Linked DNA regions of Homo sapiens: region 2 is linked to region 1. The links come from fine-mapping of genetic effects on gene expression. A gene starts in region 1. The other region holds a variant in brackets. All regions are shown on one strand. Distances are from middle to middle.

Region 1 (2,500 bases):
GAAGCCAAGATTCAACCCCACATCTGACTCCAAGCTGGGGGACACAGAACCTCAGCCAAGTCCTGGGCTGGTAATACTTAGAAAAAGCTAGTGGTCTCGCCCCGGGAAGAAGCTTCCCACAGCCTGAGGGCCAGAAGCTGGCAGAGTTGTTGAGCAAACTCGCCCCGCACACGGTCGGCAGACAGCCAGGTGGGCTGAGGCGCCGGGCTCAGCTCCGGGGTCCCAGTACCAGGCGCACCACCTCCGGCTCCAGAGCACCAAGGGCCCTTCCCTGCCTGAGTCCTAAAGGACGCCAATGGGCCTCGAGAATACCTCCGCCCCTTCTCCCCTGCCCCTTCAGCTGGTTCTTTTCTTCGGCTGAAACAGATGGAATACTAGAGCATGAGTTCTGTGTCATAAAGAAATTGCCTCGTGCTCCCAGCATCTGCCGTCCTTCCCACCCCGCCCCTGTCTCGGGTAGGGCCTTCTCTCCAGGCCCTCCACCCTCCGCTGCCCATGTTTTCCAAACCAAATCGGAACCCACTATAATGGCAAGCCCGCTTTCTCTGTGCCTGGTGCAGTTCCCAGTACGTTCCAGGCATTCACTCCTTCACCCACCTGTGCCGCGGCGAGGCAGAAACTGGGAAATCTGGGCAGGATATCCTGGCAGTGCTCTGCTCGCCCTTCCTCGGCCTCCGGGTCTCCCAACCCCGCGAACCTTCCCACTGAATAGCGCAGCCGCACGCCCCAGCAAGTCCCCAAAGAGCCGGCCGTCCCCGCTCTCCACCGTGCTCCCCACTACCCGTCCTCCCCCGCCGCCTTGCCTGCAGTCCCCAAGATCGTGCCAAGCGAAGAGCCCTCGGCGACCTGCACTCCACTTCCTCTCTTACATGGGGGGAAACTGAGGCCCGAGAGGAAACAGCACCGCACCGTCCCGGCTGCGGGTTCGCCCCGGCCTCCCATCCCTACACCCGCACCTTGGCGCAGCGGTGGAAGGTGGCTGTGGTTCCGTGCTCGGGTGCTTCGGCCAGGCCGTCCTCCTCGGAACGCAAGGCTAGCACCAGCTCCTCGTAGTCGCCGTCCTCGTCCTCCTGCGCACGGGCGCCCGCGGGACCCAGGAGCAGCAGCAGCAGCAGCAGCAGTGGCAGCGGCCACCAGGACCGCCTGGAGCTGACGGTGCCCATGAGGGCCAGGGGAGAGGTTGCTGTCCTGGCGAGGAGACCTAGAGGCCGTGCGCGGTCCACGCCGGCGGCGCCTTGAGCCTTGCGGTGGGGAGGACTGTGCAGGAGCTGAAGTTCAGGAGCAGGGCGCGTGAAGGGGCGCGCGGAATCCTGGCTGGGAGCTGGGAGCCGCTGCTGCAACGACGCGTCCCGGCCCGCCCGAGCCAGTCTCACTGCCTGGCTCACTCCTCCAGGCTCAGACCCTGAACTGAACGGCGGCGCCCGCCTGCAACCATGAGCGCCTCGACGTCGCTGCGGAAACCTTCTAGGGTGTGGGTGCTTGACGCCTGGGGCGCGCAGATCACGCCACCAGAGCCCCATCGGACGATCCTATCTGATTAAACATTAACGGAACCCCCGGACTGGAGGATCAGGTTTCGGCCTCGCCCTCCCCAAACAGCGTCAGATTACGCGCAGAGGGAAGAAAAAACTCCCAAATCCTAACTGGGCTGGAAGGCAGGCCGGCGCCCTAGGGGCTCCTCCTCTCCCGCCTCTCACCCTGCGTGGGATGCCAGACTCCAAGTTCTGCCGGGCCCACCTTTTCAGTGTTTCCTGGGTCCACCTTGTCTCCTGCTGACCAGTGAGACTTCTGAATCAATCCTACTGTGGACTCCTCGCTGCCCACCGAATTCTTTCCACTGGCCTTAACCTGGCAGCCTTCTAAACTTAGCCTGGACCCCCTCCGGCCTCTGCCCTTTATGCACCCTGCACACTGACCTTACCAACTAGCTGCTCCTTGAAGAGATTGCTTGCTTTTGATGTCCAGCCTACATGCATTTCAAGGGATTTATACTACAAAGATTCAGGTTTTAAGTTTGCAAAGACGTCATATAGGTACATTCAGAATTCTATGGTAGGCACAAGCTCAGCTTTCCAGAAGATTCAATTTGCAAAGATTCCTTTTACACACCATGTTCAAGAAATCAACTGGACAAGCATCCAGTAAACACCTATTGTGTACCAGGCAGGAGGATGAAAAGGGGAAAGAGAGCTCCTGGCCTCAGATTGTACATGTGGCATGACATGAGGCTTGCTCTTTCTGGAAGGGCTGTCGATACTGGGAAGAAACAAAGGCGAATTTATGATCCTCCCTTGCAGATGCACAGCAGATTCCGAGTGAAATGGCCTGCTCTGAATCTAGGTGCTGGAGTCCAAAGTTGATGCTCTTTCCACTTTGTTTGCAAAGACCTCACTCCAGAGAGCCAGTGCACAAAGACAGTGCAACCAGTGGGTTGACAGTGACTCCATGAGGTAAGGTCAGAGTTATCCCCATCGAGCCCGCCATCGCAGCACAGAGTAGG
Region 2 (3,022 bases), 42 kb before region 1:
AAGTACTTTCTATATGGAAATAATATTCTTAAAAAATATATTGACTCCTTAAAACTTTCCATTTAGCTGTGTTTTTAAAACCAATTTTTGTCTGGATAGAAATATAATTTGTTATTCTCAATATCTTGTGACAGCAAGGAATTAGGGCTGGAGATCTTCTTCTGAGGCATTCAGCTCTGCGGCACATGATCAGCTTCCTCCTAGGGGCCAGTCGGCAAAACAATCAGGTAAGGACTACTTTTATATCCCTAGTGGAATAGCTATGGTTTTCATAGCCGCTGTGTTTCTTTTTGTAGGTGATAAATGTTTTTAATTTCATAAAAGTCTAAGTAGTAGTACCATAGAGACTTGAAAATTCTTTGGAGTTAAATTATCTTTACAACTTCTTCATACAATTTAGTCTAATAACCCATGGAAATTACTAACTAGTGACAAAGTCATAAGAGGGAAAGGTGGATTCTGACTGGGGAGGGGGTTTCAAAAACCTTTAGGGAATAGGTGGTATTGGGGTCTTCTACTTCCTCTCTGGGGCTGTGAACAAGGCTGTCTTGGTGGTGGTTCTTTTAAGTCAGATGCTGAAAACACAGCCAGAATCCAAATGCAAAGTTGTGCTGTTATAAACTGAATGATAGTGCAGATATAATACTCTTGTTCAAATGAAAAGGAAGTTGTTTGGGTTTTTTTGTTTGTTGTCTGTTTGAGACAAGGTCTCACTCTGTCACCAGGTTTGCTGTCACCCAGATTGGAGCACAGTGGTGTAATCAGGGGTCACTGCAGCCTAGACCTTCTGGGTTTCAGTGATCCTCCCTCCTCAGCCCCCTGGTAGCTGGGACTATAGGCACATGCCACCGTGCCTGGCTAACTTTGTATTTTGTATAGAAACAGGATTTCACCATGTTGCCCAAACTGGTCTCAAACTCCTGGGCTCAAGTGATCTGCCCACCTCGGCTTACCGAGGTTGTTTTGTTAGAATAGTGTTGAATATGTCCAAAACCAACTCTCCTGTTTGAAATTGCTTTATTGCAGTGTTTCTCCCATCCATCGTATTTCTTTTATTTGATAGATTCAAAATACATGAAATGCTAACATGCAGTGGTAATAAGTACTATTTATGGAGTACTTATTATGTACTTGATACGACTGGTCACTTTATTGTGGTATACTTTTGATACTCACAGTTCATCAAAATTAAGCAGCTTCATCCCCATTCTCAGGCAAGGAGTAAAGCTCA[G/A]AGATGTTAAGTAAGTTGTCCAAGGTCACAAAGCTAATGCATTGGTGGAGCAGGGATTCAGACCCAGCTCTGCTGGTGTCAAAGCCAGAGTCTTTTCCCCTGTGTGTAAACACATTACACAGGCATTTTTCCTTTCCTGCTAAGGGAGACAGATTTTCGACTTAGGCTTCCTCTCAGCTTTCTCTTTAGTGTTAAAAAAACAAGTACTGACAGCATCACGTGCTCTGTGTGTGGATACTATGTTGAAATTTACAATATCCCTTTTCCACTTCAAACTCTTCCATATCCAAGGCCCCATTGTCACTAGCAATTAGTTTAAATTCACTATAATTCAGCTGCATGTATAATTAATACTATTTTGCATTTGTGGAGCACATTTCTACTTTTGAAAACATTTTCACTTTTAATATTTCATTTAGTCCTCAAAATCACAAAGTAGGCAGAATAGGGAGGTGGCAGGTAGCCTTACCTCTGCCAGTACATGAAGAACTCAAGATACTGTTGTGGTGAAGAACTCACTCACATTACGCGGCACAGTGAGTGGTAGAGGCAGGGCCAGACCTGCAGATCTCCAGCCTCAGAGTTTTTCCCATTATACTGAGGCACGTTGTAAGCACTCAGTACCTACAGTGAATCCATAAAGGGACTGGTTTTAGAATATGAGTTAATATAACCCTTTGAGCTGGCTTAAAACCTGTGATTTTTTTGTACCTTGACCTCTTCTGTCAAGCACTGAGAAATAATTAAAGCCCAGAATATTATGAACCAGCAAACCCTGTCCCTTCCTCTTCATATTATTTCTGACGACAACACTAACAGCCACTTTATCTTCCCTGATGACAGATACGTCGATGGAGTTCAGCACAAGCACGAGAATTTGGGAATCTTCACAATACAGTGGCGTTACTTGTTTTGCATTCAGATGTCTCATCCCAAAGGAATGTTGGTAAGCTTAACATATCTTAGAATGAAGAGATACTGAATTTGTCTAGCTTGGAGAGTAATTATATTAGCAAGTAAATGAATGTCTCTTGTTTCTCATTCGACTACTTGCTAGTTGAGGTGCACTTAAAATTTTTGTTTTAATTCATGTTAAACTTTATAATATTTTACTAGTTTGCCATAAGAGAAAGTGAGTCATCATTCATTTGGGAGAGGTGAGAGGGTATATAAGTATTTTTTTTAAAACAACTCTTTAGGATTAAAAGCTAATTCAGAGCTCATTTATCACCTTAATTTGAACCACTACTGTGTGGAAAATAGCCATGGTGTGGGCTGGAGTCTCCTAGTTTCGTGAACCTGACCGTTCTGATCTTCAGTGCAAAATGAAAATACTCAAAACATAATTCCCCAGGTATAATGAGATAATGAGATAAAGTACTTTGTAAAAACAAAGGGGATGCAGATATAAATTACATCATTGAAATATATTTGAATGTAAGATACAGTTGGTAGCATTTTCCATTTTGTCTCCCAGAACTAATAACACAGTCATCATCCAATACAGCAAAACCACAAATTGTCCTATATGATTATCCAGTGTCCTAACTTATGTGTGTACTGTTTTTATACTCTTCCTGGGTCTTGTCATGATAGTGACAACAACCATAGTAATAATACAACAAACCAGCTTTTCAGTGTTTTCTGTGTGCTGTGCTTTAAATTTATTGTGTTTAAAGCACACAGTGCTTTAAACTTACTGTGTTTGATCCCCGTAACAAACCTATGAGGAGTATTCATCCTGTCTATGGATGCAAAAACTAAGGCACAGAAAGGTTTAGTAACCTCCAC

The links. PIP is the estimated chance that this variant, and not a neighbour inherited with it, causes the effect.
Region 2: its variant is the best candidate, but not a certain one, in a credible set for the expression of PCSK9 in whole blood (GTEx, PIP 0.83).

The regions. Positions count from the first base shown.
Region 1 is chr1:55,038,501-55,041,000 of GRCh38, reverse strand. PCSK9 (proprotein convertase subtilisin/kexin type 9) reads right to left here and starts at 1,453. Exons shown (of 12, transcript NM_174936.4): 1 at 957-1,453. The coding sequence starts at 1,163.
Region 2 is chr1:55,080,477-55,083,498 of GRCh38, reverse strand. It overlaps USP24 (ubiquitin specific peptidase 24), which reads left to right. Exons shown (of 68, transcript NM_015306.3): 58 at 135-227; 59 at 2,075-2,177. Among named protein-coding and RNA genes, the nearest start is that of PCSK9, 42 kb to the right of the region's middle. The variant G/A (reference allele first, on the strand shown) is at 1,232.